Homo sapiens: one gene and its partners. The protein of the gene in region 4 purifies or fractionates together with the protein of the main gene of each other region. This does not show direct contact. Each region holds a gene or a part of one and is shown on either strand. Other genes may lie near its edges.

Evidence for each region.
Region 1: the proteins of ETFA (region 4) and PDIA5 fractionate together in Homo sapiens (co-fractionation; one large-scale study listed by BioGRID). This does not show direct contact.
Region 2: the proteins of ETFA (region 4) and PGD fractionate together in Homo sapiens (co-fractionation; one large-scale study listed by BioGRID). This does not show direct contact.
Region 3: the proteins of ETFA (region 4) and ZMPSTE24 fractionate together in Homo sapiens (co-fractionation; one large-scale study listed by BioGRID). This does not show direct contact.
Region 5: the proteins of ETFA (region 4) and FKBP3 fractionate together in Homo sapiens (co-fractionation; one large-scale study listed by BioGRID). This does not show direct contact.
Region 6: the proteins of ETFA (region 4) and GSTO1 fractionate together in Homo sapiens (co-fractionation; one large-scale study listed by BioGRID). This does not show direct contact.
Region 7: the proteins of ETFA (region 4) and ARL8B fractionate together in Homo sapiens (co-fractionation; one large-scale study listed by BioGRID). This does not show direct contact.

The regions. Positions count from the first base shown.
Region 1 is NC_000003.12:123,119,025-123,122,524, forward strand, and holds part of PDIA5 (protein disulfide-isomerase A5 precursor), read left to right. Parts: intron 1-3,500.
Region 2 is NC_000001.11:10,402,064-10,405,563, reverse strand, and holds part of PGD (6-phosphogluconate dehydrogenase, decarboxylating), read right to left. Parts: intron 2,494-3,500; coding exon 2,428-2,493; intron 1,404-2,427; coding exon 1,285-1,403; intron 1-1,284. UniProt on the Homo sapiens protein: Catalyzes the oxidative decarboxylation of 6-phosphogluconate to ribulose 5-phosphate and CO(2), with concomitant reduction of NADP to NADPH.
Region 3 is NC_000001.11:40,261,236-40,264,735, forward strand, and holds part of ZMPSTE24 (CAAX prenyl protease 1 homolog), read left to right. Parts: intron 1-1,603; exon of another isoform or gene 1,604-1,727; coding exon of another isoform or gene 1,728-1,748; intron 1,749-3,500. UniProt on the Homo sapiens protein: Transmembrane metalloprotease whose catalytic activity is critical for processing lamin A/LMNA on the inner nuclear membrane and clearing clogged translocons on the endoplasmic reticulum.
Region 4 is NC_000015.10:76,290,970-76,294,469, forward strand, and holds part of ETFA (electron transfer flavoprotein subunit alpha, mitochondrial), read right to left. Parts: intron 1,732-3,500; coding exon 1,650-1,731; intron 1,545-1,649; coding exon 1,462-1,544; intron 1-1,461. UniProt on the Homo sapiens protein: Heterodimeric electron transfer flavoprotein that accepts electrons from several mitochondrial dehydrogenases, including acyl-CoA dehydrogenases, glutaryl-CoA and sarcosine dehydrogenase.
Region 5 is NC_000014.9:45,120,982-45,124,481, forward strand, and holds part of FKBP3 (peptidyl-prolyl cis-trans isomerase FKBP3), read right to left. Parts: intron 640-3,500; coding exon 504-639; intron 1-503. UniProt on the Homo sapiens protein: FK506- and rapamycin-binding proteins (FKBPs) constitute a family of receptors for the two immunosuppressants which inhibit T-cell proliferation by arresting two distinct cytoplasmic signal transmission pathways. PPIases accelerate the folding of proteins.
Region 6 is NC_000010.11:104,257,892-104,261,391, reverse strand, and holds part of GSTO1 (glutathione S-transferase omega-1), read right to left. Parts: intron 1,817-3,500; coding exon 1,594-1,816; intron 1-1,593. UniProt on the Homo sapiens protein: Exhibits glutathione-dependent thiol transferase and dehydroascorbate reductase activities. Has S-(phenacyl)glutathione reductase activity. Also has glutathione S-transferase activity.
Region 7 is NC_000003.12:5,174,292-5,177,791, reverse strand, and holds part of ARL8B (ADP-ribosylation factor-like protein 8B), read right to left. Parts: intron 3,449-3,500; coding exon 3,378-3,448; intron 1-3,377. UniProt on the Homo sapiens protein: Small GTPase which cycles between active GTP-bound and inactive GDP-bound states.

The DNA of each region.
Region 1 (3,500 bases), on a different chromosome or scaffold from region 4:
AGGATCACTTGAGGCCAGGAGCTAGATACCAGCCTGGGCAACATAGTGAAACCCCATGTCTACAAAAAATTTTAAAAATTAGCTGGGTGCAATGGCATACACCTGTAGTCAATGCTAGCTACTTGGGAGGCTGAGGTGGGAGGATCACTTGAGCCCAGGAGTTTAAGGCTGCAGGGAGCTATGATTGCACCATGCTCTGCACAACAGAGTGAGATCCTGTCTCTAAAAAAAAGAAAAAATGAATTCCAGCTTCTTCTGCCTGGGCCCAGGTCTAGAAATATAAAAGTTACCCATTCCAGTTCCCTCAACATTACAGAAAAGTCAGGGGCGTTGTCTGCAAAGCTGGGCAAGTCAAGCTGTGACCAGGTGTTGGCTGCCTTGGCCTAAGACATCTGGGTTGTGTAAACTCATTTCTTTGTTTGTATATTTTCTTGCTTGGGGTTTGTTTTGTTCTATTTTCCCTTTCATTTCCTAGAAAAGCATCTTCTGGAAAGTTCTAGCCCTTTCCCAGCTACATAAAGAGGGAAGGGCCCTGGCCGCTGCACGCATCACCCACGCAGGAGGCCCCTAGAGGCTAGGGCTTACTCTGCAGGGGCAGCTCCCCAGAAACTGGGGACCTGGCTGGAGGGGTTGAGTGACCACAGGTGTCAATTGCTTTTTGTCTTCACACACAGAAAAGAGGTGGGACTAATAAATGGGCTGCTATTCCCCAGAAATCAAAGTTCACCCCCTCCTCGCTGCTGAAACACAGCTGGATTAGGGCCTTCTGTCACTTCTTCATCTCTGTCATCTTTGAGCCTTTTTGGCTGGGTCTGTCTCTGGCAAGGGTCAAAAATCTTCCTCCTCTACAGATTTTTTGGGAGGTGTTCAACCTGATTGACATCATTAGGAAGGAAGGCATGCCAGGTCAGGGATGCACAGCCTTTGCCATTTCCAAACTTACAGCTGCCTCTTTTGTGCTGTCATTGACGTCTGGTGACTCATCGCGTCTGTCCCATCTACTCCTGCTAATTGACATCCTCATTAGCAGCCACGCTGCCCCCATCTCAGAGCAGCCATCAGAATGAGCCCTGTCTCCATCTGCCTCTTCCCAGCCTTGCCAGTTATTGACATCTGCACTGAGCCTTTGAGCTTTGCCTAGTCTTTGGTGGACCTCGGCCATGATGGGCCAGTCTGGGTATAAACACCATGAAATAGAACCATCATGACGACAGATTTGTACAGACCAGGCTCTAGTGCTGGCTCTTGCTAACCAGCTGGGAGATCTTGGTCCAAGCTCCTTAGCCTTGGAGCCTCCATTTCTCCATCTGTAAAATGGAGATGATAATGCCAACCCTGCCCACACTGGGTTGTGGTGAGGAACAAATGGGCTGTGTGGAAGAAGCCCTGTACCCCACAGAGCACTCATAGACACAGATGACTGATCCCCTCTCTTCCCTACAGCTGCCCTGCACCACATTCCTTCCACCGGCTAGATGGGGGTGCTCCCAAGGTTCCGCTTTCCTGTTAACACATTGGAGCAAGGTTTTGTCTTATTACAGTCTACCTTCCAGTGACCACATCTCTGTCCATAGCTTCAACAAAACGTAGCTCCATGGAGCCCAAGTCCTTCCCCTAAGTGCCAGTGCCACGTGTCAGATGGCTTGCTTCACAGCTCCATCTGGATTTTTTCCCTTGTGTCTCAAATGCATGTCTGAAAATTCAGTATCTTTCCATCTGGCAGACTGTGAACTTTGCATTAAGTCCTTTCCCCAGGGGCCAGGCTCTTTCCCCACCCCCCACCTCCACCTCTCTTTACTGAGGCATCATCAGGCATCTTCCTCATGCACCCTTCATCCTCTCCCTGCCCACCAGCCCTGTCCAGTGGGCTATGCTAGCTGGTGGCCAAAGGCTGCTGACTTGTCTCCTGACCACAGCATTCCCTCATAGCTCGTCCTTTCTGCTTCGAGAGATACAACTGGTTTGAGGGTTGCTTTCTTACTTAGAAACCCTCGGGAGCTCTCCGTCACTTCCTGAATACAGTCCCGATTTCTTAGGTATTTCAAGCCTTTCCCAAAGTGATCCTGGCCAACTCACTCAGCCTTTTCTTTCATGTCTTCTCCTTTCTGTGTATCCTGCCTTCCAGTTAGATGGAAATGTGCTCCATTTCTTGGGCCACATCTTTCTTTGCCTTGCCTCCAGTTCCCCATCCCGGGACGTCTGTTGAAATCTTACTCTCCTCTGAGTGCAAGCTCACATGCAGCCCACGCTAAGAAGCTGCCGTGATGGTTCCTGGCAGCAGGGCTGAACACACAGAAGAGCATGTCACGCCAGCTGAGTGGCCCCAAGCATGCAGATGGCAGTGGGGAGCAGGGAGGCTGTGTTCTTATCTTCTCCACAGGCCGAGACCAGGTGTGTCACCTCATTTGACTTCACAAATTCTAACTCCAGAAAGTGTTTGTATGTAGTTTTTCAAAAATTTTTGCCTCATTAACTAATAGATGCCCCCAAAATGGCACAAAAGTGCTACAGAAACTTGGAGAATTAAGAGCTCACCCCAAGCGAAGGTGGTTTGCAAAGGCTGCCCAGAGACGTGAGGTTTGATTTGCCTTAAGGGATGGGTGAGTCTGGAGGGTCGCCAGGAGGCGGGGGATGGGCAGCCTCAGTAAGGGGACTGGAAGGCACCAAGTGGGGGCCAGGAGAGAACAGCGAGTGTTCCAGAAGTGTGGGCAGAAATAGAGCACCTCCTAGTCCTAGTAACAAAAATAGCTAATACATTTTGTGTTATTGATTATCTTGTATTATTTCATTGAATCTTCTCAACAACCACATGAGGTGGCTGCAGATGAGGAAAGTGAGACGCAGAGACAACTGTGACTCATTCAAGGAAATGCGCGACCCCATGGGGAGTTGGGACTCAAACCCAGGCATCCTGAGTCCATGCTTCCAGCCACTGCATGTTGCTGCTGCACTCAGCAAGATGTCTGAGAAGGCAGACAGTCCAACTTCCTTCCTGTGCAGAAATCTCAGACTGTCTTATTCCTGGGAGAATAAAAAATCTAGACCCTAACAGGTGTACAATGAAGAGTTTTGTAAGAAAGAAAGATTCAAAAATGAAATAGGTAACATATGGGCATTGAATGTGGAGCTGGATTTTAGCCTATATTCAATGGAATTGGAAGGTTTTGTGCAGGGAAGTGATGTAATGAGCGAGGAGGACGTGTAAGATTAATCTGTGGTGAATGTGCACTGACACTGGGGAGATCAATTAGGCAGAAAAAAAAAGGACTTTTAAAGAAGACAAATATTACTGGAACAGGCCGCTGGAGCAGTCTGGGAAATGAGCAGAATGACTTTTATAGAGCGTTCCAGGGCTTCAAGTAAATTCGAATTCAAATTTATTCTTCCTGTATTATTTGCTGCATCCTAAAATGGGCTAGGAAAAAAAAAACAGTGAATTTAGTGAGCATTTATTGTGTCCTTGCTGTATGTGAGGCCTTGTGCTAGGGACTTAAAACAAT
Region 2 (3,500 bases), on a different chromosome or scaffold from region 4:
CCAGCCTTAAAGAATCATATTTCAGACCAGGCACGGTGGCTCACGCCTGTAATCCCAGTACTTTGGGAGGCCAGGGCAAGCGGATTGCCCACAATTATTTATATATATATCGGATTGCCCACAATTATTTATATATATGTGTGTGTGTGTGTGTGTGTGTGTATTTTTTGTTTGTTTTGTTTTGTTTTGTTTTTGAAACAAACTCTCACTCTGTCGCCAGGGTGAAGTGCAGTGGCGCGATCTCGGCTCACTAACCTCTGCCTCCTAGGTTCAAGCAATTCTCCTGTCTCAGCCTCCCAAGTAGCTGGGACTACAGGCGCACGCCACCATGCCCGGCTAATTTTTGTATTTTTAGTAGAGACAGGAATTTACCATGTTGGCCAGGATCGTCTAGATCTCCTGACCTGGTGATCTGCCTGCCTCAGCCTCCCGAAGTGCTGGGATTACAGGCGTGAGCCACCACGCCCGGCCAATTTATATTTTTTAATTAAAAAAATGTTTGTTTTACTTTTTTGTAGAAACAGGATCTCGCTATGTTGTCCAGGCTAGTCTTCAACTCCTGGGCTCAAATGATCATTCACCGCAGCTTCCCAAAGTGCTGGGCAGTGATTACAGGCATGGGCCACTATGCCCAGCCTGTTACCCACGATTATCACATTAAGTTACTTTTGGGTTATATATCAGCTAAAAGAGGCAGACCTTATTCCTACATCCAGACATTGCACAGAACATTACCTAAACTGCTTCCTTAAAGCCTATTTAGAGGCCAAGTGTGGTGGTTCATGCCTGTAATCCCTGCACTTTGGGAGGCCAAGGCGGGCAGATCGCCTAAGGTCAGGAGTTCGAGACCACCCAAGGTAACATGGTGAAACCCTGTCTCTACTAAAAGGCAAAAAATTAGCCAGGCATGGTGGCATGTGCCTGTAGTCCCAGCTACTCAGGAGGCTGACGCACAAGAATTGCTTGAGCCCAGGAGACGGGGGGTGCAGTGAGCTAAGATCTCACCACTGCACTCCTGCCTGGGCGGGAAAAAAAAAAAAAGCCTATTTAGAACGTCAGGTATCAGTCTTGATAGAAATAACAGAAGAAAAAAGGCAAAAGAGGATTGTGCACATATACTATATCAAAGCAACAAAATGTCTAGATAAAAGAAATTGCCAGCATCTCCCAGCTGTCACACTCAGGGCACCACAGAGATCAGGGTGGCAGAACTGCTCCTGGCTTATTCGTTCTCAAAGTCCAGCTCCCTTGTACAGAGATGGGCACAGTGCTGATGGCACTCACCACGCTTCTTTGTTCCCTCCTGGCATGAGCGATGGGCCATACCGGGCCCCTTCCTCTCCACCACTGACTCCGCTCCCCACAAATAAAATTCCCTTGGCCTTGAGGTCTCGGCACCGTCTCTGAAGGACAGAAAAATAATTTCATTATGCTTCCATGTTTCATTATGCTTCCATGTTTCATTATGCTACCCAAAAATGTTTCCCTTATAAATGAGAGGAAGTATAAGATAGGAATGGAGAGCCTACATTTACAGGAAATGACCCAAGGATCTAGGAATAACTGATGACTCAGGAAAGTTAATCCCCTATGTGTAGGAGTTAAAAAACAAAACAATACAACTATGGACATTCACGATACCTACCTCATCCCCAAAGTAAAATAATTAAGCCAAACACACATTGGCATTTTACTGGAAAAGACCTTGAATAAGACTCAACGAAGAGTAGGTGTAATACAACTTAATGCCATTCAGCACTTCAGAGCACACAGGAATTCCCTCAGCATTTGATACCATTAGAGGAGTGGTTCTAAACCAGTTATAGACTGACATATCATGGATTACTTGGAAGGGGAAGGGGAGGAGTTAAAACGTAATTCTCAGCCTGCTGTATCTGAGTTAGTCATCCTTTGAGTTGTATGTGTGACTGAGAATCTCACCCACCAAGTGTCTTTTTTTTTTTTTTTTTTTTCAGATGGAGTTTCACTCTGTCGCCCAGGCTGGAGTGCAGTGGCATGATCTCGGCTCACTGCAACTTCTGCCTCCCAGGTTCAAACAATTCTCCTGCCTCAGCCTCCCAAGTAGCTGGGACTACAGGCGCATGCCACCATGCCAGGCTAATTTTTTGTATTTTTAGTAGAGACGGGTTTTCGCCATGTTAGCCAGGATGGTCTTGATCTCTTGACCTCTTGGTCCACCTGCCTCCGTCTCCCAAAGTGCTGGGATTACAGGTGTGAGCCACCACACCCGGCCCTTCTGTTAAGTGTGTCTTAACAGAAAAAAAGGCTGAGAACTATTGTATCAGTAGTAATCTCAAAAAAATCAGTACCACAGGGCAGTTCACCCTACTGTCACATATGCGATGCTGACACTTTTTTCTAGAATGTTCTCGGAACCTGGAAGAATCTGGACTGAAGAACACTTACTGTGGTGTCCCTATATTCAGAATTTCCTCCGTCAATGATGATGTCACCAGTATCCAACAATGGTACCTGTAACCAGACACCAGCATTAAGATGGACCAAAAATGAAACATACCTTGGCAAATTAAAACAAACAAGAATTTATTCCAAATAAACATAGTCTAAAAAGAGTCTCGTTCTGTTGCCCAGCTTGGAATGCAGGAGTGCGAACATGGCTCACTGAAACCCTGAACTCCTGCAGTGGTGTGAACATGACTCACTGCAACTTTGAACTCCTTGAACCACAATGCCCAGCTAGTTTTAAAATTTTTTTTGTAGGCCAGGCGCGGTGGCTCACGCCTGTTATCCCAGCACTTTGGGAGGCCGAGGTGGGTGGATCATAAGGTCAGGAGATCAAGACCATCCTGGCTAACATGGTGAAACCTCGTCTCTACTAAAAATACGAAAAATTAGCCGGGCGTTGTGGCAGGCGCCTTGTAGTCCCAGCTACTCGGGAGGCTGAGGCAGGAGAATGGCGTGAACCCGGGAGGTGGAGCTTGCAGTGAGCTGAGATCGCAACACTGCACTCCAGCCTGGGGGACAGAGTGAGACCCCGTCTCAAAAAAAAAAAATTTTTTTTGAGATGGAGTCTCACCATGTCGCCCAGGCTGGTCTCAAACTCCTGGGCTAAAAGCCTCCTGGCTTGGCAGGAGGCCAACGCACCCAGCCTACTTAATCTTCAATAATCCTCTCTGTGGCCAGAGCTGCACACTATTTAAAAGTTTAGGGCTGACCAGGCTCAGTGGCTCACACCTGTAATCCCAACACTTTGGGAGGTTGAGGCAGGAGGATCGCTTGAGCCCAGGAATTTGAGACCAGCATGGACAGCATAGCAAGACCCCATTTCTATTTTTAAGTAAGTATACAGATTAAACACTGACTATAATGTGTCTAGAAGAGAGTGGGGATTCAGTAAATACATATCAAATGGTTTAGTGTATGAATGAATGATTTTATGACAACAGTTCGGAGGTCAGGAAGAGACAGAGCCTTGAACATGAATATCTACCTACAGCACACCAACCAGGCTGGGCTTT
Region 3 (3,500 bases), on a different chromosome or scaffold from region 4:
ATGTCATGTCTTCTAAGCAACCATTTGAAACTCCCTGCCTGACGAATGTGGATAGGGTAGCATTCTATCATTATTCCTGTCAGAGTACTTATCTCATTATGTTGAATTTGCCTGGATTTTTTTTTTTTTCTTCTGGCACAGTCTTGCTCTGTCACCCAGGCTGAAGTACAGTGGCGTGATCTTGGCTCACTGCAACCTCTGCTTCCTAGGCGCAAATGATCCTCCCACCTCAGCCTCCCGAGTAGTTGGGACTACAGTTGCATGCCACCATACCGTCTCAGAGTGCTGGGATTATAGGCATGAGCCACACTGTACCTGGCCTGATTTGACTGTTTAATTGGCAGACTGGTAGTTCCTTAAAGAAATAGTTAAGTCTTGTTCATCATTTTATACCTAGTGCCTGGCATGTAATCAGCATATAGTTCCTATTTATTGAATGAAATAATGTGGGGTTTTTTTGTTGCTTTTTTTGTTTTGTTTTGTTTTTGTTTTTGAGCAGTGTCTTGCTCTGTCGCCCAGGCTGGAGTGCAGTCGCACGATCTTGGCTCACTGCAATCTCCACCTCCCGGGTTCAAGCGATTCTCCTACCTTAGGCTCCTGAGTAGCTGGGACTACAGGCGCGTGCCACCACACCTGGCTAATTTTTTGTATTTTTAGTAGAGACGGGGTTTCACCATGTTAGCCAGGATGGTCTCGATCTCTTGACCTCGTGATCTGCCTGCCTTGGCCTCCCAAAGTACTGGGATTACAGTCATGAGCCACTGTGCCCTGCCACTTTTATTTTTATCATCCTGATCATCATCATCATCATTTCTCTAGAACTTTTAGATCTACTAGTACCACTAAGAGAAAGATTCCTAAATTTAAAAGAATTATGATCAGCTACCATCATTGTTTCATGAGTTAAAGAAACTGGCTTTATGTAGCTGTGGTAAATGACAGAATTGTCTAGCTCATCACAAAATTTTTCTTAACAAGTATGGAATAATAAGACTAGTGTGGTTAGATCCAAATTATTAGAAACTGCACTTATTTCTTCAAGGTGATGGAAAATGGCAATGCTTCTAGAAGAGTTAAATTTTGGTATTTAGAAAAATTAATAAATGATTTGGAAAACAAAGTCTCATTGGCTTTGGGGATACACAGCTATTGCTATTAAGTAATCTTTTCAATAAAGACTTGGCTTTAGTTAATTTATCTGAGCATTGCTTCTGTTAGGGACATGTCACAAGTAGGAAATCATCCTTCAGAGACAGATGGAAGTAGAAGTGGTTAATTTAGACACTATTCTTTTTTTTTTTTTTTTAAATAGATGAAAGAGAGTTTACTTATGTATTTATATAATGGCCTTGGTCCAAAAAAGACTAAAGGGAGCTCAAAAAAGAATTATAGTAACTTTAAAAAATACATTAAACATATCCAAGATCTTAAATGTATCATTCTCCCCAAAAGCTAGTTGCTTCCAAACTTGACTTAATATTTTGCATGTTTTCCCTCCATTGCTTGGTAAGTGTATTTGCCTCTTCTTTCTGCAGTTGATGTCTGACGGCTGAGTTTTGCTGTTTTGTCAACTGACATTTCCCCTTCTGTTTCACCAGTTCCAGAGAATTGTTGAACAACTTAACAACACTACCTGAAGAAGTAATACTCAAGAGTTCTTGTTCTATACTGATTAATAGCTCCCATATTTTCTTCATCTCTGAAAAGTCTGAATTCTCTGTTTAATAATGACAAGGCAATTAGATGAGGTAGACACTATTCTCTTTCTGATGTTTGCTTCTTGGAAGTCCTTTGACTTTACCCACTACAGGGCCATAGTAAAATAATAGGAAAAGCATTTTCAATCTCCTTGGTTGTCCCTGGTAAATAGTGCCAGGAAAGATAGACAGTAGCTTGGTAATTATGGTTGGTGACCATAGGAATGGCTGTTTGTTCTAGGGGATGACAGAAATAGGGAGAATACATATATAAAGTGAGAGCTTTGTAATGTACTGTGGCTCAAACTAGAAGCAGTACTGATGGGCTAAGGTTGGGAACAGTAATAGTTAATAGTCGTCATGATTTTCACTTCATACATAGTTTTTATATGTATTGTTTGATGTTTACAACAGTGAAGTGGAAAGGATAGGCATTATTATTCCCTTCTTATGAATGAGGAAGCAAAGGCTTGGATAAATTAAAGGGTTTGCATGTTTAATTGCCAAGGGACATGCTAATAAGTAGGATAACTGGGTTTCAAACTCTGTTCTGCTGAGTCTTTAAAATGACATTGAAAAATCCATTCTTGAAACTCTAAAGACTGCAACATGAATGTGCTAAATTTATCTCTGGGGATTTTCTGGCTGCATTTATGCTTGGCAGGAAGAATATTTTGGGTAACTTTGAAACCTTGTTTTGTTTGGAAACAAGTTCATTAATTTCTATTTTGTGTTGATTAGAATTAATAGGTTTGTATGTTTTGGTCACAGAGATCAAGTGAGAAGATTAGCTTCGACTTTTTTTTTTTTTTTTTTTGCCGTAGTACTTTCTACCTGAGGGAACCTAAATAGAGTCATTGTGTGGCCATTTATGGTTGCCACTGTTCACATAAATATGACACTGCACCCAGACAGAAAATTCCAGCCTCTCTGAGACACTTTCTCTAATATCTCACAGATATCAATAAAGGGCCCACTGAAGAAATGGAATGGCTGGGGAGCAGAGTAGGTCAGGGTCGAAAAGTTTAAATTGTTGCTTCTCTAATTTTTGCATGTTTCTATGTGAGCAGTTTCACCTTCTTGAGCCTAAGTTTTCTCATCTTTAAAATGAGAAGTGGGCTGGGTACGGTGGCTCACGCCTGTATTCCCAGCACTTTGAGAGGCCGAGGTGGGGGCGGATTACCTGAGGTCAGAAGTTTGAGACCAGCCTGACCAACATGGCGAAACCCTGTCTCTACTAAAAATACAAAAATTAGCCTGGCGTGTTGGCACATGCCTGTAGTCGCAGCTACTCAGGAGGCTGAGACACAAGAATTGCTTGAACCCGGGAGGTGGAGGCTGCAGTGAGCTGAGATTGCAACACTGCACTCCAGCCTGGGTGACAGAGTGAGACTCCATCTCAAAAATAAATAAAAATAAAATAAGAAGTGTGTGGATGTTAAGCCATACCTTGTATGGTTTGTGGCAAGGACTAAGTGAGTGAGATAGCGTAAATGAAGCTCAATGCGTAGGAATTACTTAGTCATTGGGTTTCTTTGGACAAGTTACTTCAACCTCTCAGTTAAAGTAACCTTTCAGTTAAAGAGTTTCAGTTGCCTCATCTATTAAATAGAGATGATTATACCCTTTTCCCTGCCTGTTTTTCAAGACTGTAGTAGTGAAGCCAGGCATGATGACTCAATCCTGTAATCATAGCACTTCGAGAGGCTCAGGTGGGAGGATCACTTGAGCCCAGGAGTTTGAGACCAGCCTGGGAAACATAGTGATACCCCATCTTTGCAAAAAAATTTTTAAAAAATCAAC
Region 4 (3,500 bases):
CTTTGGGAGGCTGAAATGAGAGGATGACTTGAGGCCAGGAGTTTAAGACAAGCCCGCACAACATAGGGAGACTACATCGATACAAAAAATTTGAAAATTAGCTGGGCATGGTGGCATGTACCTGTAGTCCTAGCTACTCAGAAGGCTAGGATAGGAGGATCGTTTGAGCCCACAAGTTGGAGGGTATGTTGAGCTACAATCGTGCCACTGCACTCCAGTCTGGGCAACAGAGCTAGGCTGAAGCAGGCAGATCACCTGAGGTCAGGAGTTCGAGACCAGCCTGGTCAACACGGCGAAACCCTGTCTCTACTAAACATACAAAAATTAGCCAGGTGTGGTGGCACGCACCTATAATCCCAGCTACACACGGGAGGCTGAGGCAGGAGAATGGCTTGAACCCAGGAGGTAGAGGTTGCAGTGAGCTGAGATTGTGCTGCTGCACTCCAGCCTGGGCGAGGAAAGTAAGACTCCATCTCGAAAAAAAAAAAAAAAAAAAGTAGGCCAGGCGCGGTGGCTCACGCCTGTAATCCCAGTACTTTGGGGGGCCGAGGCGGGCGGATCACGAGGTCAGGAGATCAAGACCATCCTGGCTAACACAGTGAAACCCCGTCTCTACTAAAAATACAAAAAATTAGCCGGGCGAGCTGGCGGGCGCCTGTAGTCCCAGCTACTCGGGAGGCTGAGGCAGGAGAATGGCGTGAACCCCGGGGGGCGGAGCCTGCAGTGAGCCGAGATGGCGCCACTGCACTCCAACCTGGGCGACAGTGAGACTCCATCTCAAAAAAAAGAAAGTAAAAATAAAGACTAAAAATGACACCTTATTAAGAATGGAACAAAAGAAAAGAGAGCTAAGATAACACCCACGGCCACAGAGAGAGAGCAAGAAAAATCCACTGACGAATTCCTTGTCTTAAGCTCCCATTACACTCCTCCCTCCATTTTTAACTTTATGTAGACTGCTATCCATCTTATAACACACTCATTCTTCAGACACATCACAATGCACATGATCAGATTACAGCTTTCTTTACCTTAAGGATGTCTTCAACCACCACAAGCCCTTTCCAAATTCCCTACGTAGATAAAATTTGGCTTTTCTAGATATCCATCAGCCATCCAAATAAACCATCTCTTAAAATGGGCTACTAATAGAAATGACTCTTGCTCGTTCACTCTCTCTCTCACATGCAAGCAGAATTCAGCATTACTTTTACATGCAGAAAATTTTAAAATAATAGCCTAATTAGAGTTTTCTCCACAACATAATTTGAAAACCTGGAAATGGTAGTTTTAACGGAAAATTATGACAAAATCTTGAAAGAATAAATTTTAGCAAAACTACCACATCAATTCAGATAAATCCAGATTGGCTACATAAACAGTCTGTTGCATACTTTCAGCACAATGAAATCTAACCCTTTCAAGCAGTGATATCAGATTCCACATTCTCAACCTTCTCACCTTTCCGAAGGCAGATGCTCCAGCACAGATGTGTGTGTAATTGAACTGCTTCTGAGTTGCCAAAATCAATGGTGTCAGTTCCTCTGAGAATTAAACACATTTGATAAAAAAATATTTTGAAATACTTTCATATTCATATATTCAAGCGTAATTTAGACACTACATTTTTTTCTACTGGAAAACCTCACCTGGAAGTAGGCCTTTGTACACATCATGCTGAGCCACCAGAACTTTTGCTATGCCTGCTACTTTACAGAGATCTTGTGCCACCTATGATTAAAAGATAAGTTCCTAATTATCCATCTATCAGAAATATACAAATAAAGCCACCACTATAAATATCAACAGATCATAAAATCTTAATGGCCAACTGTAAAAATTATTCTTATTAGCAAAAGGGCCAGTTAAGAATTAAAATATATTCCGGCCGGGCGCAGTGGCTCAAGCCTGTAATCCCAGCACTCTGAGAGGCTGAGGCAGGCAGATCACCGGAGTCAAGAGTTCAAGACCAGCCTGGCCAACATGGTGAAACCCCATCTCTACTAAAAATACAAAAATTAGCTAGGCATGGTGGCGGGCACCTGTAATCCCAGCTACTTGGGAGACTGAGGCAAGAGAATGGCTTGAACCCAGGAGGCGGAGGTTACAGTGAGCCAAGATCACACCACTTCACTCCAGACTGGGCGAAAGAGTGAAACTCCATCTCAAACAAACAAAGAATTAAAATATTAAAATACATTCCTTAACAAAGAAAATCTAATGCCAATAGATCTTACTACTGACTGACCTTACACTGTCCAACTACCAAGCATTTCAACAAAAATTCCTGCCTTGAAAAAGAAAAGTGCTAATTGACAAACCAAAATCAACATGGCTCTTTATTCAAATTTTGTTATAAATTGTGCTTTTTACTTTTGGTTCAATCCAAGTGTAAGTTCAATGTCCTGGAAATGGTGAAAATGAAGTTCTCTAGTAACATCCCATTGTCAACCACTGAGTTCCTGCCCACATACACATATTTATCTATGACAAAGCAAAATATTTCCTATTTTAATTCTTCATTTTTCCTGTTTGGAATTAGAATGGGGTTCTGAGAAAGCTTTTTGATGATTCAGATTTTCTATATTCAGAAGGCAATTAGATTTCCCCTTTTTAAGTATCTTTATTACCTCATGGCTGGTTTCCACTTTAGCTAAGTCATATCAGTCATACTATCGTCTTCTGTCTCCTTGTTTACCTCCAAACTGATTCATTGATTCACTGATGAGTAGGATTAAAAGGCTGTGCCTTGTGCCACCCTCATATGAACTGTTAGCTTGCAACAATATTCACTGAAGAAAGGATGCAGTGCAAGAATACATTCTCTGCTAAACCAAGTGTTCACCGGCATACCATTTGTACTACAGAGGCCCTTTATTATGGATGCAGCTGCATTTAGCTTCTCAAACTTTAAGAGAATTTCCAATTAAGAAACTCAGTTAATTGCAATGTAGCTGCATAGCAGCATGGGATAGAAAATGGGGCAGAATTTTCCCATTGAAACTATCTTGTTTTTACTGGCAAAACGGCTGGCATTATACAGAAGAATAACTTGCTGTTTATGACAAGTAGCTGAATAAAATGGTATAAAACCGAACTCTATTAAACGATCTCTTCATACAGGTACTGGTTGTTTTCTTTAAAATTAGAACATGACAGGTTAGGATTGTAACTGAGTACAGAAGACGATTTCTATTTTGATTTTTCTCAAAGTAGTATAAAGTATCAAAGTCTTTTTAAAGTAATATTACAATAATTATTTTAAATCACAGCAAAACAAACAACAAATCACAAATTCCTATATATCCAAAAACAGGGAAACCAAAAAGATAGCTTAGCCATCATATACTGTGGCTAATACAGACATACAAATAGATAGCTTAGCCATCACACATCACACATTGTGGCTGTATCAACTATGTAAGATCCTACAGTTGTTAGCAGGAATTGGGTAAAGAAATCCACATAACTAATCATAAACCCACCAGAATATGTTCTTT
Region 5 (3,500 bases), on a different chromosome or scaffold from region 4:
ATGATATACTCTAATTTATTATTAAGAAATTTCCATTGGAAATTATTAAATTCCAGTGGAAAAATATAGTGGTTTGATTTCAGAATTACAATACTATGTATTTTAAAAGAAGGAAAAAATTTACAAAGATCATCCATCAATAAAATTCTGGCTGTAAAAATAATTACATTCTTAACAAAGGGTAGAGGGGTAGGACCTATACTTATATCACAAAACAGCATACTATCCTGCCTTTTCTATTCAAATACTAATGCCTTACTTTGGGACATTAACCAGGTTTAGACTGAGATTCCTTATCTTTTGCTTTCCAAAGAACAAGAGGTCTTTAGCCAGCCAATAATCAGTGAACTGAAGACCTCTTCCAAGTAGATCTTGGGGGAAAGTATGTCTGGATGAAAGTAGGTGACAGTCAGGAAAAAGGTACTGCTAACTACTCATCTGTCTGCCACCCAAGTATTTAGAATCTCTTTAAGCCAAAAACATAAGATTCCATTTAGACTTACTTGTTTGAATATTAGTATCAAAAACAGTCCCATCTTGTAGTGTTCCTGTATACCAGCAGTGAACAACATCTCCCTTTTTGGGAAAGTTGGTTTTATCTCCCTTTTTCAGAACAGATTTAGTATATTTTGGTGGACCCTAAAAACAAAAAACAACACACACACACAGAGTTATTAATTTGTGTCCTTTAAAAGAATGACAAACAATAGCCAACAATGACCAAAGTCAGTTTAAAGAGTTTGATGGATTTGGTAATAAATAAACAAACAAAACCCTCAGTATCTAATTTCAAGGCTGTGATGTGACTATTAGTAACTTACACATCTATAATTTAATTTCAAATAACTTCCAGCTTCTTTGGAAGCCTAAATTCTTCTAATAAGATTCTGTTAATAATTCACCAAACCATAACATGATTTCAGTTATTTCCTAAAGTTAAAAAAAATCATTACTATTTAATTCCTATGAAATCATAAGGCATTAAAATAAGGGATGGTGACTTCCCCCCCACAAAGATTTGAACTGTTTTAGCAGCAATAATTGATATTACTAGGTGTTTTTATAATAACCAATTAGAATGAATACAGTGATATTGCCTCTGTCCCCGATTTGGAAAATAAATTCACACAATGGATGAAATTACCTAAAGAAATTGCTATAACAGGCATATTTCCTAGAACAAAGTAGGATTATCAGGGTCTTCTACAAAAAAGGTTACATATTAATCTAATCAATAGCAATTCATATATGAGAGGAAAGCAGACAGAGGAACTGTCAAGAATCTTAGGGAGTTAATTAAAAAAAAGAAGAAGTGTACCGAATTTAAAAGTATCCTTACCTAAATCTATTTGGTTTCTGAATTCAGACCAAATTCAGAGGGATCTGCATTATCCAAATCTATATTTGGTTTCTAAATTTCATAAAATAAATAACAAAGGTGTGCTTGGATATCCAATAATTCATATCTATTAGTTCCTGAGTTTGAAAAGCAAGAGAAAAGTGTTTTCTTTATTCCTGACCTATTTCTTTTTTTTTCTGAGATGGAGTCTCACTCTGTCGCCAGGCTGGAGTGCAGCGGTGTGATCTCGGCTCACTGCAACAACCTCTGCCTCCTGGGTTCAAGTGATTCTCCTGCCTCAGTCTCCCGAGTAGCTGGGACTACAGGCGCCTGCCACCACGCCCAGCTCATTTTTTGGATTTTTAGTAGAGACACGGTTTCACCATGTTGGCCAGGATGGTCTCGAACTCCAGACCTCGTGATCCGCCCGCCTCGGCCTCCCAAAGTGTTGGGATTACAAGTGTGAGCCACCGCGCCTGGCCTATTCCTGATCTATTTCTAATTGGTCAAGTTATGCAAATTTTTATTCACTTTCATTTCCCTAGCTGAAGGTTTTATCCTTTTCCAAAACTTGTAAGTAAAAATATCTGTGCTGGGTGCGGTGGCTCACACCTGTAATCTCAGCACTTTGGGAGGCCAAGGTGGGTGGATCACTTGAGGTCAAGAGTTTGAGATCAGCCTGGCCAACATGGTAAAACCCCATCTCTATTAAAAATACAAAAATTAGGTGGATGTGGTGGCGTGTGCCTGTAATCCCAGCTACTCGGGAGGTAGAGTCAGGAGAATCACTTGAATCCAGGAGGCGGAGGTTGCAGTGAGCCAAGATGGCACCACTGGGCGACAGAGCAAGGCTCCATCTAAAAAAAAAAAAAAAAAAGTCTGATCTCCTTGCAAATAGTCTACCTCTTGGGCAAAAGATTCTCTCCCTGACCAAACCCTAGCTAGGGTCCTCTGAGACCTCTTCTTCACAAGCCTTCAACCTTGGACTATAAAGATTTGAACAAACACAAGTTTCAAATAGCTCAAGGCCTTATTCCTAGGAGGACCTGATCCCTCCTTAAAGTGTCCGCCTAAGAAAACTTAAGGCTGCCAAAAAAAATTTACTGTTTGTTCCAGCCAACGCCTCAAGATGAAGATAGGACCCCTGTCTCTGTCTCTGTGGGAGCCTGATTTTGATAAGCGCCAGTTGGCAAACTCAGATGGGTTTCATATGGACCAACCCCACTTCCTACTTTATGTAATTTTTCACTTCTCTAACTCTGCTTAAATCCCTCTCTACTCCTTTTTTTTTTTTTTTTTTTTTTTTTTTTTTCAGATGGAGTCTTGCTGTGTCACCTAGGCTGGAGTGCAGTGGCATGATCTCGGCTCATTGCAAGCTCTGCCTCCCGGGTTCACGCCATTCTCCCGCCTCAGCCTCCCAAAGTAGCTGGGAGTACAGGCGCCCGCCACCACACCCAGCTAATTTTTGTTTGTATTTTTAGTAGAGACGGGGTTTCACCATGTTAGCCAGGATGGTCTCCATCTCCTGACCTCGTGATCTGCCCGCCTCGGCCTCCCAAAGTGCTGGGATTACAAGCGTGAGCCACCAGGCCCAGCCCCCTCATTCTTTTAAAAGGCCCAGTTACCCCTCCACAAATCAGACTGGAGTTTAGCTCTTTCCCCTACTGTCAGTAGGCTGAATAAAATCTGTTTTCACCACTTTAATGTCCGATTGTGTTTATCTCTGACACCTTGAGTCAGTCCTCTACTCAACTGCTAGAGTGATATTAACAATTACTGCTTATAGTTTTGTGTCCAAAGGCCTAAACCATGCAGGATCTTAATCTATCCCTCCCTGAAGTTCCAGAATTCTATCAGCCTTTGAACTCTTGTCTTTTCCATGACCTTCTCAGTAGAGCAGGTGCATACAGCATAGAAATCTTTCAATCAGCTGGGCGCAGTTACTCACACCTGTAAACCCAGCACTTTGGGAGGCCCAGAAGGGTTGATCACCTGAGGTCAGGAGTTCGGGACCAACCTGGCCAACATGGTGAAACCCTCATCTCTACTAAAAATACAAAAATTAGCTGGGCATGGTGGCAGGCGCCTGAAATCCCAGCTATTTAGGGGGCTGAAGCAGGAGAATCACTTGAATCCAGGAGGCAGAGGTTGCAGTGAGCCA
Region 6 (3,500 bases), on a different chromosome or scaffold from region 4:
TGGCCAGGAGAGCAGGGTCATATGTACATAAAGCCACCTCTCCTTTAAAACCCAAGCAGGGAAGTAAAGGTGGGCATCTTCAGCATTACTTTTAAATCTCATTTTCTTTCTAGATAGTACAATGAATCTCTTGTGACTACTTTTTAAAGTAGTAGCTTTATGCATGAAAGTAAAGCTTCATGTCTAAAAGCTTTACTTTTAAAGCTCATTTTCTCTGACGTGTCCTACAAGTCCTTTCACGATCCAGTTCCTGTTTACCTCTCCAAAGTTACCCCTTTTATCTCTTCTCCTGACACTTTATATTCCAGCCATACTAAAAAAAGTTTTCCAGAACTGGCACCAGACCAAAGAGATTTTTCTTTAAGAACCACTTAGGCTTATTTTTTTTGGTTGGTATTGATGACTTCGTGTCTTGAAGCTGCATGCCTTTAACTTGTTACTACTTTGTAAAACTCTCCCACATCGTTCTTGAAAATGTCATGTTCCCTTTACATTATCTTTCACAGCAGCCGCCTCTACTATTCTTTCACCCTCATCTTACTAAGCAGATGACTCACTCTTCCTGTCCCATTGGCTTCCCTTTATAATGTCTCCTAAAACAGAATGTTTTCCCTATAACTCTCTCTTAGGGCATTTCTTTAACCATCTTTTTCTCTAAAGATAATCCTTTATATACTGACCGTACTACCAAGGTGACAATGTTATAGGCATATAACCAGACATGCTATTCTTGGTGTCTAAACACACATCTTTTAGTCATTTCTTTGTTAATACTAATTGTTTGAACTAATCCACAGTGTTGATGCTAAGTAAGGTACAAACAGTTCTTCTACAGGATTGCTATTTATTCAGTCATCTGAGTTATTGCCAACACAAAGTAGATGCTCACTGCTTGATGCTATGGCTATAAGGACAAGAATTAAGTAGTTCCCATGTGTCAGACTCTGTTCTGGGTGTTTTATATTAACTGATTTTTATCTTATGAGGTGGGAACAATTACTATATCCATTTTACCAATGATGAACGGAGAGGCAAAGTAATAAGTAACTTGCTCAGAGTCACAAGAAAGTAGCAGAGCCAGTCATAAAACTAGGCAGTGAACTAACAGTGATCAAAACACAGCCCTCACCCTCAAGGAGCTCACAGCCCCAGTGCAGTACACAGGCAAGAAGGCAGGCAAAAGTTCACACGGATGGGAACTCAGAAGCTAGAGCACTAACCAGCCTGCCAAGCTCCTGAAAAGGCAGCAGTGTCGGAGCAGACATGTGAAAAATGACGTGGAGATAACCAGGCACAGTGAGAAGTGGGAAGAATCTGACAGCAAGAATTGAAAGAGAAAGGGGCGAATTTGGGAATTCTGAGAAAAGTTTAGTATGGCTGGCATATATAAAGTGTCAGGAGACGAGTGAAAAGGGATAATTTTGGAGGTAAACAGGAACTGGATCGTGAAAGGACTTGCAGGACACTCAGAGCTGACAAGCATATTCCTGTTTTGTTTTTCTCTCCCAAATCACTGAACCATAAATGGCAGCACTGATTTCGCTTTAAAAAACAGGTTTTTCAAATAGGAGCTGAAATTTCTTATGCACAAACCTTAGAAAACAACTCTAAGATCATCTTCTGGCAAGCTTTCTCATAGGGGTCATCCGGCAACAGCTTCTTCCCTGGGTATGCTTCATCCAGGTACTCACAGGTGATGGCAGACTCGTAGATCAGCTGACCCTGACTGTTTTCCAGAACTGGCACCAGACCAAAGGGATTTTTCTTAAAGAACCACTCAGGCTTATTTTTCAGGTTGATATTGATGACTTCATGCCTGAAAGACACATAGGAGACTATGAAGAGAAGGAAACAACTTTTGTGCTTTTGGATAAATTCTCACTGGCTTTGCCATCCACTTAGCTGATCAGACCCCAAATTTAGGAGTCTGCCTAGATTCCTTCCATTCTAGTTTTTGATTTTATGAATCTGACTACTTTTGATACACCTTTTAAGAACAATCATGCAGTATTTGTCTTTCTGTGTCTGGCTTATTTTACTTAGCATAATGTCCGCAATGTCCATCCATGTTGTCACATATTGCAGAATTTCCTTCCTTTTTAGGTGGAATAGCATTAACACATTTTCTTTATCCATTCATCTGCTGATGGACATTGACATTATGCTGTTGTGAACAGTGCTGCAGTCTACGTGAGAGTGCTAATATCTCTTTGAGAACTTGATTTCATTTAATTTGGATATATACCCAGTAGTGAGATTGCTGAATCACATGGTAGTTCTAGTTTTAATTTTTTGAAGAACATCTATACTGTTTTCCATAGCAGCTGTACCATTTTACATTCCCGCCAACAGTGTGCAAAGGTTCTGATTTCTACACATCCTTGCTAACACTTGTCTTTTTTCATTATAGTCATCTTGACAAGTGTGAGGTTATTATGTGATTTTGATTTGCATTTTCCTGATGATTAGTGATAAGAACTTTTTCATATATGTGTTGCCCATTTTTATATCCTCTTTGAAGAAATGTCTATTTTTTTAATTTTTAATTTTTTTTGACACTCTGTCTCCCAGACTGGAGTACAGTGGCTTGATCGCAGCTCACTGCAGCCTCGACCTCCTGGGCTAAAGCGATCCTCCTACCTCCCGAGTAGTTGGGACCACAGGCGTGCACCATCACACCCAGCTAATTTCTTTGTAGAGACAGGATTCTGCCATGTTGCCAAGGCTGGTCTTGAACTCCTGGGCTCAAGTGAACTGTCTGCCTCGGGGTTATAGGCGTGAGCTACCATGCCCAGCCTGAGAAGTGTCTATGTAAGATCTTAGCCCATGTTAAAATCAGGTTTTTTTGTTGTTGAGTTGTAGAGATTCCTTATGTATTTTGGAGATTAACCCCTTACCAGGTATGTGGTTTGCAAGTACTTTCTCCTATTCCATAGGTTGCCTTTTTGCTCTGTTAATCGTTTCCTTTGCTGTGTGGAAGCTTGTTTGCTGTAGTCTCATGTGTTTATTTTTGGTCTTGTTGCCTGGTCTTTGGTGTCATGTCCAGGAAATCATTGCCAAGGCCAGTGTCATGAAGCTTTTCCCCTATGTTTTCTTTTACACGTTGGCGGTTTTTATATTCCTTGAATTTGCCAAATGTGTTTCCACCTTAGAGTCTTTGCACTTGATGGTCCTCTGCCTCCTCTGCCTGCCTTTTCCCAGGTCTTCCCAGGTCAAACACACATCCCCAGGCCCTCCCTGACCATAGCTCTGAAGTTGCTGAGCAGCTTCTATTACATGATTATCATGTTTTACTTTCTTCATTGAACTGATAATATGTATCTGAAATTACTTTGCTCACTTATTTACAAGTTTGTTATCTTCCTAGAATGTAAGCTTCACGAAAGGTGGGATCTTGTGTATCTGTTCATAGTAATAAACAAACATGTAAATGAGCAAAATGCTATATAGATATAAATGCTCTGAAGAAAATAAAAAGTTTCAAATAAGGACTCAGTAAA
Region 7 (3,500 bases), on a different chromosome or scaffold from region 4:
AAGTGAAATAACCAAATTTAAATATTTAAGAAATTCATGGCCGGGCACGGTGGCTCACACCTGTAATCCCACACTTTGGGAGGCCGAGGCAGGTGATCACCTGAGGTCAGCAGTTTGAGACCAGCCTGGCCAACATGGTGAAACCCCATCTCTACTAAAAATACAAAAATTAGCCGAGCACGGCAGCGGGCGCCTGTAATCCCAGCTACTCGGGAGGCTGAGGCAGGAGATCACTTGAACCCAGGAGGCGGAGGTTGCAGTGAGCCAAAATTGCGCCACTGCACTCCAGCTGGGCCACAAGAGTGAAACTCCATCTCAAAAAAAAAAAAAAAGAAATTCACTAAAAAATTACACAAAGCCTCTGTGGATACTGATAGAAGTTCATATCCTAAAGACAAATGGATCTTTATGAATAGGCAAAAAGACAACAGAAATAAGATACTCAGATGAACTGATCTACAAAATACTTATTTCGAATTTTATTAGAGTGGATCTTATTAGACTGGATCAGATTCCTTGGGCTTGACAACCTTTTAAGTGAGCCAGGAGTTCTAAAATTACTACTGAGCTATTTAGCCAACTATAAAGATCAGCCTCAAATAGCGAAAGAAGTCCTCACAGCTCTACTGCACTTCCATATATGAGCCCAAGAGATTTTGTTTTTTTTTCAGGAAGTATCCAACTAGTTTGTAACAATGGAAAAACAGAAAACATGTAGGGAGTAATGGATTTACAAAATAGCACAATGGACTAAAAATTACGGTTAGTGTAGAACAGGATTTCTCAACCTTGCCACAACTGACATTTTATGCTGGATAATTCTTTGCTGTGGAGGTTATAGTATGTTTAGCTACATTTCTGGTATCTACCCACTAAATGCCAGCATCACCCTCCTAGTTATGACAACCAAAAATGTCTCCAGACATTGTCAAGTCTCCTGGGGGAAAAGCTCCCCATTGAGAACCACTGATGTAGAAATAAATGCTCTCATGGGGCATATCTTAAATTTTAAAAAGAGTTTTCCCCGCCACATAGAGAAAAAACTTTTAAATAAAGTCTAAGTAACCACAAGTGCTTGAGGAGTCTGTTCTCAAATAAATGCTCCCAATGTAACAAGTGAATTATTCTATCCATTTATAAAGGAAAATTTGTGTCTATCCGCTGTTACTAAGGCTGAGACTGCCCTGGATGGTCTTTAAAGGAAGCCCAAAATTAGCCAGAACGACTATCCACACTTTAAACTGAATAAAGCATATTTGTGGCTGGGCGTGGTGGCTCATGCCTGTCAATCTAAGCACTTTGGGAGGCTGAGGCAGGTGCATCACCTGAGGTCAGGAGTTCAAGACCAGCATGGCCAACATGATGAAACCCTGTCTCTACTAAAAATACAAAAATTAGCCAGGCGTGGTAGTGGGCAACTGTAATCCCAGCTACTCAGGAGGCTGAGGCACAAGAATCACTTGAACCCGGGAAGTGGAGGTTGCTGTGAGCTAAGATCTTGCCACTGCACTCCAGCCACGGCGACAGAGTGAGACTCCATCTTAAAAAAATAAAAATAAATAAAGCCATGTTTGCAGGCGGGGTGGAAGGTGAGTTAGGGAAGGATAGACTGGAATACAAAAGCTAAAGAAAAAATATCAGCATAAACTTTATAGATATACTATTCTGGTACTATTTATTACATTTTGTTCCAATACATTCATTTATCAAATCATCTCAAACCAAATTAGTTAAGAAACTAAAGTTGAGCCATACATACTTATTCTGTAACCATACTATGCTAGAATGTTTAATGTCCCCCTAAAAAGTCATGTCCATCCAGAACCTCAGAATGTGACTTTTACTGGAAATAGGGTCTCTGCAAGTTATTAGTTAAGATAAGGTCATACTGGATTAGGTGGGCCCTACCTAATCCAGTGACTTGCGTCCTTAGGAAAACATAATACACTGACACAGAGACAACTACAGGGGAGAAGCATGAATGTGAGGCAGAGACTGGAGTGGTATATCTACAAGTGAAGGAATGCCAAGGATTGCTGGCAACCACCACAAGCTAGAGAGAGGCAAGGAGGGATCTTCTACAGCCTTCAGAGAGAACACGACCCTGCTGACAACTTGATTTTGGACTTCCAGCCTCTAGAATTTTGAATGACTTAAGTTTCTGCTGTTCTAAGCCACCTTGTTTGTGGTACTTTGTTATGGCAGTTCTAAGAAGTTAATATGGGCATTGAGTAAATGAAGGGTATTTTGGGCATATAATTCCAATAGAGTGCTAACATATTGCAGTAATATACTGGTTCAATAACTGAAAAATTGTTGTAGTGCCTGTAGACTAATTTTTGTAAAGTCTTATTTCAAAAATGCCATTTTGTTATAAAGCACAGCGGGATACTAGCTCTGCAAAAATTAACACAATAAATTGGTATCACATAATCTTAACCTCACGACTTTATTGCATTTTCTTCTTTAAATAGCACAAAGAAGATTCAGGATGTTATACATTCAGTCCTCACTTAACATCACTGATAGGTTCTTGGAAACTGCCACTTTAAGTGAAATGGTGTATAACAAAACTATTTTTTTCTCATTAACATTGTAACGCTGAACGAAATGAGGGCCTACTGTATGTCATTTCGCTTAAAAGTGCAATTTCCTCTTTTTAAAAAATTTTTTGCTGTTCAAGAGTTTGATAACATATAGGCCGGGCTCACACCTGTAATCCCAACACTTTGGGGGGCCGAGGCAGTTGGATCATTTGAGGTCAGGAGTTCAAGACCAGCTTGGGCAACATGGAAACCCTGTCGCTACTGAAAATACAAAAATTAGCCGGGCGTGGTGGTGCACGTCTGTAGTCCCAGCTACTCAGGAGGCTGAGGCACAAGAATCGCTTTAACCCAGGAGGCAGAGGTTGCAGTAAGTCGAGATCACGCCACTGCACTCAAGCCTGGGTGAAGGAGTGACACTGTCTCAAAAAATACATATACATATAATATTATTTATATATATATATTTATGTTATATATAATATATATTTATATATATTATATATTACATATATATTACATATAATATATAATACATATTACATATATATTACATATAATATATAATACATATTACATATATTATATTATATATATATTTGTATGAGAGAGAGAGAGATAACATTGCAATTTCAAAGAAGCCATCAATGATGTTAAGTGAAGGTTCACTATATTTGTTGTCAAAAGGTATGTCTATTCTTTTTTCTCAGGCAAAAGCAACAGTATTCTGAAAAGGAAGTCACTTAATGAGAAATCGAGACAATAAGCTGTAAGAAGCATAGACATTCCTTCCAATGATACCCATTTCTTCCAAAATTACCAGTCATTTCTTACCTATATTATCCTTTTCTTTGCAAGAAATTGAATAGCAGCAAATTTCTCTATCCTGAATAGCAGACAGATTCCTATGAGAAGAATTAAAAGGATAAGTCTGTGCTTAGAACAGCTGTCATACTT